Homo sapiens: one gene and its partner. The protein of the gene in region 2 interacts with the protein of the main gene of each other region in a pairwise test. Each region holds a gene or a part of one and is shown on either strand. Other genes may lie near its edges.

Region 1 (5,134 bases), on a different chromosome or scaffold from region 2:
ACAAAGGGAGCCTCCTACACTCACCTTCAGTGCATGTGTTTTTATTTCTGGCAGTAGCCAGACAAGTGGCTGCTTATTCTCCCCACGTTTCCACTTTGCCTGGGACTGCTACGCTCCTAATGCCAAGTTTTGGATAGTGTTCAGCAGGGCTACGTTACGACTTCATGAGCCCTTGACACATTTGCCTTTGTGGGCAAAAAATATTTAAAATACACTGAGCGTGGTGGCTCCCACCCGTAATCCCAGCACTTTGGGAGGCCAAAGTGGGCAGATCACTTGAGCCCAGGAGTTTGAGACCAGCCTGAGCAACTTGGTAAAACCCCGTCTCTCCAAAAATACAAAAAAGAAAATTTAGCCGGGCATAGTGATGCACACTTGTGGTCCCAGCTACTTGGGAAGCTGAGGTGGGAGGATCGCTTGAGCCCGGGAGGTCACAGTGAACCATCATTGCGCCACTGCACTCCAGCCTGGGTGACAGAGTGAGACCCTGTATCAAAAAAATACATAAATTTAAATCCTATTTTATGACTGCACTGGTGTAAAGACTCAGAGCTCACTGGGTTCAGTTCTACAGGTAAGAAAGTTGAGGCAGAAGAGAGAAGCAACTGTCCAAGGCCACACCTTGGCAATGATAAAGACCAGACCAGCCTCTGCTCCCTTATACTCAAAGCAACACAGGAAATGAACTTAATTTTAACATTTAAAACAAAGGAGATCTGCATCTTTCCTTGTTCATTCATTCAGCCAATATCTAATGAGTACCAGCTTGTGTCAGTCACTGTGCAGGGCTAGGGACACGGCACAGAACCAGGCTGGCAGGAGGGAGGAGCCCCACCACCAATAACTCTAACGATAGTCCTCCCGACGGCACACAGGGAACGTTCACTGTGCTGAGAAAACAGAAAGCAAGGAGCTAGAGCCCAGTTTAAGAGTGAGGAAAGGTTTCCTTTACTTCTATTTTGGGACCTAAAAATGAGTAAGAGAAAAGAGTACATGTCTGAAATTGCCAAAAAAATTATTTAAGGCAGGAAAAAAGAATACATGTGAGAACTGGCCTCTGTGGTACTGCATGTGACAAAGCCATGTAACTAAGATCAAATGGTCTTATGCTAAGATTGGCAAGTATCATTGGAAAAGAAGGTGGAGCCCAGGAGCAAGTAAGTGTTCATGCACGCACACACGCGTGCCTATGTGTGTATGTATATTTTGTAAAGTTAATACATGACAGAGGCAGGATTTTAATTCAGAGGGAAAGGATAGTTAATCTAATATGGAAAAAAAAAAAAAAAACCTGACTCTCCACCTGGAAAAAAATACATTTGGGTCCTCACCTCCCACCATTCACATTCACAAAAATCAATTGTAGGTAGATTAAAGGCATAAAGAATAGAAAAATACAAATCTTAATAGAAGTAGAAATCAAAAACCAAATGCACTCAATAAGAGCAGAGAGGACCTCAACCATGACAGGAAACGCAGAGGCTGTAATAAAAACGAAACACACATTTGACTACATTAATTTTCTGTGTTTGCTGCAAAAGATACCATAAACAAAACTAAAAGAGGGTAGATTTCAGGGAAATATTTGCAATGCAGATGACAGATAAAAGGTTAATGCCTACCATAGGTCAAGAGCATCTGTAAATTGATTTTTTTAAAGACAAAAAAAATCTTTCCAGCAATCCCAGCAAAGCAGGATTTCTCAACCTCAGCACTATTGACTCTTTGGGACTGATAATTTTTTGCTGTGAAGGCCTATCCTGTGTGTTGCAGGATGTTTAGGAATACCCTGGTCACTATCCACTCAATGCCAGCCTAGTTCTAACAACTAAAAATGTCTCCAGACACGGCCAAATGTCCCCGGGGGGAAAGGAGCAGCAAAATTGCTGCCAGGTGAGATCCCCTGTGGCACAGCAAATCCACCAATAAGCATGTGACAAGACATGTCACCTCAATAGTCAGGGAAATGTACCATCAGAGAAGAATAAGATATTTAATAGCAGGAGTGCAGGGAAAAGGATGCTTTGCTGGTGAAGATAGGAATTTAGAGCCGCGATGGGAGATGAGTCTGGTGATACATGAGACGCCGAAAGCTGACTTAGTGTAAAATGTGGAGGCCACACGATGGGCAGATTCCTGAGGGGTCGAGGGCAGGCCTCCACAGCCAGCCAGGGCTTCCGCGGCTAGGGTGTCAACCGCCAATTGCATTGTACCTGAACTCATATTTTTTGTGTAGTTCCCCTAGTTCACCATATTGGAGGCGTCAGCCTGAAAATTCAAAACTGTGATTCCTGGCCTGTTGTGGTGGCTGAGGCCTATAATTCCCAGCAGTTTGGGAGGCAGAGGAGGGAGGATCATTTGAAACCAGGAGTTTGAGACCAACCTGGACAACATAGTTAGACCCTTGACTCTACAAACAAAAAAATTTTTTTTAATTAGCCAGGCATGGTGGTGCATGCTTATAGTCTCAGCTACTCAGAAGGCTGAGGAGGGAGGGATTGAGCCCAAGAGTTCACGGATGCAATGAGCTATGATATTGCCACTGCACTCCAGCCTGGGCAACAGAGTGGGACCCTGTCTCTTAAAAAAAAAAAAAGAAGAAGAAGAAGAAGAAGAAGAAAAAGAAGAAGGCCGGGCGTGGTGGCTCATGCCTGTAATCCCAGCACTTTGGGAGGCCAAGGCAGGCAGATCATAAGGTCAGGAGTTTGAGACCAGCCTGGCCAACATGGTGAAACCCCATCTCTACTAAAAATAAAAAAATTAGCCAGGCACAGTGGCACGTGCCTGTAATCCCAACTACTTGGGAGGCTGAGACGGGAGAATCACTTGAACCCCAGAGGTGGAGGTTGCAGTGAGCTGAGATCAAGCTACCGCACTCCAGCCTGGGTGACTGAGCAAGACGCCATCTCAAAAAAAAAAAAAAAAGTAAAAACATACAACAACAACAGAAAGCATAGATGATGTTGCCAGGCCAGCTGTAAATAATGTGACCTAAATGACAGTACCTCAGTTTCATCATCAGTGAAACCAAGGATGATGAAAAAAATTGTACTGTCCACACAGGGCTGTCACAAGGATGCTTTCAGATAACCCATTTAAAAGCAGCATCTGGCATGTGGCATGTGCTTTTTGACACACATAGAGCTATAAATGTCAATTAGGTAATACACGTAAAATGCGTGGCACAGGGTCCAACACCTGGTGGGTATTATCTAGGGCGTCAATCACCCTCAAGAAGTCTCCCTGACCCAGTTGCCAGGATGAGAGTAACTGGGGCTCCCCTTCCCAATGTAAGGTGAATGTGGGACTTCACCTGCAGATCAGCCCCCGGCCTCTCCCTCTCTTGGCAATAATCCATTGCATTTTCAGTTCTTTCCCATTAACCATCTTTGTCTCTCAAGACTCCAGGCAAATGTCACCTCACTCTCCCGGCCCAGTGGCCTGCTAACTGAGGATTTCCAGCTTGGCCAGCTCCCGACTCCCAGCTCCCAAGGCAGATATGGACAGAGTCCCCTGGCTGGGGCAGCAAGAGGAGCTGCCTGTCCAGGACACAATTGGAGGGCTCAGGTGTCTCCCTGAAGAGTCAACACTGTTGTCCCCTACCTCCTCCCAGAGCAGGGCTACATGTGGGGGCTCCCCTCCACCTCCCAGCTATATCACGTCCACTGCCCTTATCTGTGGACATAGCGCTTCTTTACATAGTCACTGAATCCCCAACTAGAATGTAAGCTCCAGGAGGCACAGACTTTGCCTGTCTCAGTCACTGTGGTCTCTCCAGCCCCTATAGCAATGCTTGGCACATAGTAGCTGCTCAATAAAAATAAATTGCTTAAATAAGTGAGTTGAGCAAAGCAGTGTGGGGTCACCCCCAGGGCCTCCTTGCCTGCCCCTTCTCCAGCCCCTGACTCCCACCCCGACCCCGACTGGACCTCTCTTCCCACAGCATCCCTTTTACTCTCTTGCTGAAGAAACTATTGTTCCCAACTACCAAGCCCATCAAGTCAAAACCCCTCTGTCCTGGTTTCAAGACCCCTCAAAGTGCCCCTCCCCACCTGACCAAAGCTATTTCCCACCACTTCCCACCACACCCCTGCAGTTTACTGGGTCTAGTGAGCTCCAGGAGCCACAGAGCCTGACCAGCCTTTAGCAACCAAATCAGAATGAACAGCTGGCTTCTCCCTACCTTGCAGGATCCCCTTGCAGGAAGAATGCAGGAGGCAGTTAAAGTGCTTGGCCAGTACCCTAAAAATGGGAGCTATCATCATCTGAGGCTAGAGGCAGTTTCTCAAAGCAAATGACAGCTGTGGGGTCTGAGGGATGCCGGTTCAAATCCCAGCTCCACCATTTTACTGGTAGGTGGCTTTGGACAAGATAATTCACCTATGGCCCAGTTTACACAACTGTAAGGCGGAGATAACAAAAAAAGCTACTTTCCATGCCTACTGAATATATTCAATCAGATAATAAATACGGTATGCTCATCACAATACCTCGTCAAGAATAAAAACTCAACGAATGAATGGCCTTTATTCTGATGATCAGGATGCTGATCATCAGACCCCAGCCTGAAAACAGAGAGACTAGCTTGCTTCTCTGCCATGATGACTACGTTTTATCAATTATCATGTCCTTAGTTTATTGTGTGTCATGGTGTCTTCAGAGACTCCTTAAATCTGTCACCCCATTGCTTGGCCCCATTGTCTTGGTCGATAATCCTTTTCTTGGTAATCACACCAAGCTTTACGGTCATCACCACACTGTGGGGGCAGGGCCAGTGCATACAGTTCACGTTGTGTACTGCACAAAGATACCATCAGAGGAGGGGAATGGGAGGATGGAGGTGAAATCCAGCTGGGACTTTGATTGGCTTCTCCCCAAAGGAGGAGTCTTTCCAATTTGCACAAAGATGCATATGGTCTAGCCCAGACCCTGCATTTAGGGAGGGGAGAGGTTCTTTATCCTCATATTAATAGTTCTTGGAATTCCCCATCTGCTTGTTTGGGTCCTCACCGCCACATTCCTTTTCATTGCCAGGTGATGTCACTGTCAGTACTCACACGTTCCAGTGAATTAGAACACTCGCTTTTAATCTCCATCCTCCCATTCCACCCCACCTCTCTGGTGTTTTACACCC
Region 2 (5,134 bases):
CCTCTCCCAAAGGTCCATCCTCTGTCACTGCCAGCCCTGGGGAGTGTCCCTGCTCGAGGGACACCCTGAAAGCCTCAGGCCTCCTTTCTCATCGACACCACCCTGGCCTCTGATCCCTCCTGTCTCACTCTGTCCGGAAGCCTGGGCCATGGGGGTCTCAAGGCCACACGCAGCATGTGCTTCTTGTGTTCCAGCCTGGAAGCGCTTGTGATCTTCCTAAGCGTGAAAAACCAGCCTGTGGTCTTGTCCCTGAGGAAAGCCGTCTCTCCTGACAGCAGTCAAGAGCTGCTGGCGCTGGGCACGGGTCCCGTAGATGCATGCTTCAAAGCTCAACCACATGCTGGGCCTGTCTTCCATGGCAGGGAATTTATACCTGAAATAACTATTTTAGGCCGGGCGCGGTGGCTCATGCCTGTGATCCCAGCACTTTGGGAGGCCAAGGCAGGAGGGCCGTCTGAACCCAGGTGTTCAAGACCAGCCAGGGCAGCAAAGTGAGACCCCATCTTTTAAAATAAATAAATAATTAAATAAATAATACCGGCTGTGGGGGATGAGAAAATAAATGAAATAAATACATACAAAAATACACAAACTTTTTAAAAAAGTGGCCTGGATGCCTCCTGGCCTTAGAAAGCCAGTGCCAGGCCTGCCTGTGAAGGCCGTCCTGCCCAGACCCCCAAGTCCAGCCACTGCTCAGCAGCACTGAGGTCCCACCCCCAGGCCGTGCACCCCTGAGCCCGAGAGGAGGAGAGGGGGAGACGGGGAGGGTGGGCCATGTCCTGGGGCTCTGAGGCTAGCCTGGCTCAAGCCTTCCTAGTTGGAGCCAAAAGCTCTGAGCCAGAGCCCAAAGTGGCTGGTCAGACCCCATCAAAAGGCAGAGTACCCACGGCTGCGATCAGCAGCAGGGACTATGGAAGGTTCTGGATTCTGGAGGTGCTGGGTTCTTCTGCATGGAATGGAGTCACAGAGCACTGAAGCTGGAGGCGGCCTCAGGAGCACCGAGCCCTTAGAGCTCCTGGGGAGGATGAACACGGCCCCACACTCCCTGCCTGGGGAGGACGGACGTCATCCCACACGCCCTGCCCGGGGAGGACAGACGCCACCCCACACTCCCTGCCTGGGGAAGTCGGACGCCGCCCCACACCCCCTGCCTGGGGAGGACAGACGCCGCCCCACACCCCCTGCCTGGGGAGGACGGACGCCGCCCCACACCCCCTGCCTGGGGAGGACAGACGCCGCCCCACACCCCCTGCCTGGGGAGGACGGACGCCGCCCCACACTCCCTGCCTGGGGAGTGAAGTGGCCCTGGGGGCGCGGTGGGGGTGAGGACAGGAGCGAACCCCAGAGCAGAGCAGGGCAGGGCAGAGTGGAGCGTGGCCCGTCTGTCTCAGGGTGGACCTCAGCATGGAGGGTGCCAAGGGCAGGCACACCTGGCTATGGCTGGTCCCCCAGGTATGGTATCACACTTGATAATGGCACGGGGGACCTCGGGGGTCCAGGGACCACACCCAGAAGATGGCGGGGAACTGGCCAGGACGAGCCTCTTTCCTGAGTGTGGGCAGGGTCTGCTTCTGGGACGCCGGCTCCTAGAGTCCCACTAAGTTTTCTGCCAGGTCACTAGGCAATGGCAGAAAACAAGACAGCTCCACTTGGGCCACAGACCTGGACACCCTGCAAGGACACTGCCTGGCCTGCAGGAGGGAGCTGGTTCTTAGCCCACTTCTGTGCCCCCTGCAAGCTACTCTGTCTCCTCCAGGCCCCGAATGCTGCCCTGCTGCATAGCCAGTCCCTTCTTCCTGGGGGCACCTCCAGGACAGGCTCTTTCTTGGCCCTTGGGAATGGCCCACTAGACACGCTGGTGGGGACGCAACCATCCAGAATTGTTTCAGCCATGTCTCTCTTCCCCAGGCAGTCCCTGCCGCCGTATCTTGGCTTACGTCTCAACCAGACTCTTGAACATGGTGGCATAAACCAGCAAAAATGAAGCCGGCCCTCTGTCTTTAACCCGGGCGCAGCCACATGACATGTCTGCTGATGCCTGCCAATGGGAGAAGAGGGGTGGCTGGGAACAGACCACCTGCTCAGGAGTCAGAAAACCCTGACTCCAAATCTTTGCTGCACTACTCGGCTCTGCAACTCCAGACAAATCACCCTCTCTGAGCCTGTCAAATGGGACGACAACGAGTTTTGAGGAGTAGGTGTTAGAGCATCAGGCCTAACGAAGGAACTCCGTAGACACCTCCTCTCTTTACCAGAGACAACCCGGGCGCTGCAATGCCTGAGGCCATCAGCGCGTGTGAAAAGCAGGGCTACAGCAGACTCCAGACATGGCCAGGGCTCTGGGGCCACCCTCACGACAGCAACAAGTGCGATGGCAGCCACCCCCACCCCCACCACAGTGGGGAGTATCCCACTTGGTTCACACCACCGTCCTGTGAGACAGGAGGAGGAAACGGAGGTGGGGGGCAGGGGACTGTGCCGGGGGCCCAGGTCACACAGGGAGCAGCGGGGGAGGGGATTGGGGAAGGGGTGCCTGGGGTCAGGCCCAGGGGCAGCAGTTGGGTGGAGGCACAGCAGCTCCTAGGGCTGCTACACATAGCTGACAGCAGGCAGCTGAGCACTCGACTCTCCGGAGCAGCCCCAACCCCAGTCCCACGGGCCCACCTGGTGTGCGTCCTCTGCCCGCCAGTGCCCTGCCGACGGGCCCGTGGTGAGGGAGGATGGCGGAGGAGAGGGGTCCAAAAGGAACAGTCGCAACTCTGTCATTTAAAACCCTCCCGGCTCTGAGGACACACCTGTCTTCCGTATGCTGGTACCAAGCAGGCGACTGTCCTGCCTCTTCTTGAATACCCACAGGGACGAGGACTCACTAAGCGCATGACAACCAAGTGTCCATTCTGATGACATCTGGAGTATGTCCCCAAAACTTCAAGATGCTAGGGCAGACCTGCTTCCTCCTCTGGGTGACAGAGCCTCCTGCTGTCCTCCGGCCCCTTCCTGCACCCAGAGCCCCTGCCTTGGCCCTCCCTCTGGCGTGCCAATGGCATCTGTGACAGCAAACTGAGACCACGGCCAAGGGCGCATCTGTGCTCGGAGGATAGCCCCCCGCAGGCTGTGCCCAATGGGCCCCTTGGCCAAAAGCCAAGGAGTCAGAGGCGTAGCCCACAGCACTGAGGCGAGCAGCCACCATCCCTCATGAGGGTTAGCCCCCCCAAACACTGAAGCCAGTGGCCACCTCCCTCATGAGGGTGAGCCCCCAACACAAATCCTAAGCTTTCTGGGCACTCAGGATGCTCGGGGAAAGGCTCATTTTGGATATCCAGATTAAGCATAATGCAAATATTCCCAAATCCAAAAACAAAATCCGACATCCAAAACACTGCCGCTCTCAAGCATTTAGGAAGAGGGATACTCGACCTGCATTAGGAAAGAAACAAACGTACCATTGAGGTTGCGTATGAGTCTCGCTTCCTTCTCCCCATCTTCGTCCAAGCCGTCAAGCTTTAGTTTCTTCCAGGCGAGTTCGTCCCTCTCCTGTATCTTCAGATCAGCGTGGAGCTCGGCCAGCCTCACGGGAGGAAGATGCAGCTGCGAACGAAGGGGAGGAGCCTGTGAGCCACGAGCAGGACGGACCAGGACACAGCGAGAAACTGACCTCGGAGGAGGCTGGCCACCGGGAGGTTCTGGGAGACCAGGAAGAGGTGGAGTCAGGGTCACTGTCAGCAGGATTCAAACCCCACAGGTTTAGACAAGAACTCAACATGGACACCAGTCTCTAGGCCTGTCTGTATACACGATCCGGAAACCCCAAGTCCATCGGGGGCTCCCCACCAGCAGCGGCTGCTCATTCCTGTCCGGCTGTAACAGGACACCCCACCCTAGCACCTGAGGACAGTCATCGGGCACTCGGATAAACAGAGCAGGAAGAAGATACCCACTGCATTACCATTGCAGATACATATTGCAAGGACACAGACACCTAGAAGTTCTTTTTTAAAAAAAATCACTGTAATCTCAGATCTGCCCCATCTTCATTTCCCAAAGACCCTCAGTCACCACCTCTCAAGTGTACCATGATCCGAACTGTCTTGCTGAGACGGTTCTTACACAGCCCCAGATCCTTCTGGAGCAGGAATCTGTCACCCTCTCACTTACCTGCTGGCGTAGACCACACAGGCAGCGCCCCGGAACGAGCTGCCGCACTGGGGCTGAGGAACTTCCCCGCCCCACCCTCATCCCTCTCCGCAGGGCAGGCCACGCTTCATTCATCCCACCCCTGCCCTCCCAGCTCTGGGACCCTGGGTGAGAGAAGGAAGCAAGTGAGGTGACCGCTGGGCACACTGCTTTTTGGTTGCAAAGACAGGATTTAGGCCAAGAGTGTCCCCACGTCAGAAAGACTGGGCCAGAATGCCAGGCGGCCGAGGCAAGCAGCAGAATGAAACCCACCGGCCAGCTCTCATCAACTCTGGCCTCGGGGCTGGCCCGGCCGCTAAGAGGCGTGCGCTGGGGCAGGCTAGCCCTTCAGGGAAGCGAAGGCTCTTCCGTGCAGAGCAGAGTGGCCCAGCTGTGTGAACCAGAACGTGTCATGAGGTGGGACCAGGGTTCACGGAGACAGGGTGCTGTCCCTGGCTAACTGGGGAGGCTGCACCGCATGCCTGTAGTGACGCCAGCGCATTAAAGCCTCTGTGGAGTCCTGCAGCAAAGGAAGTGCTCGGCACTGTGCAGTGCAGATCCCCAAATCTCTCGGCTCTCAGGAGGGTCCCCTTCCCTGAGCACCTGCATTCTCACATTCCCCCGGGGCTGGTCCTCATGAGCTGCCCGTGGCTCTAGGAGGGAACCCCAGCTCCTGCCTCTGAGCTCCAGGTGCCCATCACCTAACGCCTGTCTCTGATCATGTGTGTTTAAATATGGAGTCTGTTTTCCCTTAGACGTTTGAAATATTAATCTTTTATCTATATTTCATTAGCTATTTTCTAACATAAATACAACACAAGCTAGTATCCAAAGTATGTGTGTTATATTTCAATAAAGTTTACGTAAAACAGTGAACATCCCCACGAAGCGTCAAGAGCCGGCTGCCTTCCCAGTGTCCCGCAGCCCGCGCCGCCTTGTGGCCCACACTGCCTTGCAGCCC

The links. Proteins that work in one complex are often made in the same cells at the same time.
Region 1: the proteins of LRPAP1 (region 2) and ETV7 interact in a two-hybrid assay, tested with the Homo sapiens proteins (one large-scale study listed by BioGRID and IntAct).

The regions. Positions count from the first base shown.
Region 1 is NC_000006.12:36,376,967-36,382,100, forward strand, and holds part of ETV7 (transcription factor ETV7), read right to left. Parts: intron 1-5,134. UniProt on the Homo sapiens protein: Transcriptional repressor; binds to the DNA sequence 5'-CCGGAAGT-3'. Isoform A does not seem to have a repressor activity. Isoform C does not seem to have a repressor activity.
Region 2 is NC_000004.12:3,521,464-3,526,597, forward strand, and holds part of LRPAP1 (alpha-2-macroglobulin receptor-associated protein precursor), read right to left. Parts: intron 3,589-5,134; coding exon 3,444-3,588; intron 1-3,443. UniProt on the Homo sapiens protein: Molecular chaperone for LDL receptor-related proteins that may regulate their ligand binding activity along the secretory pathway.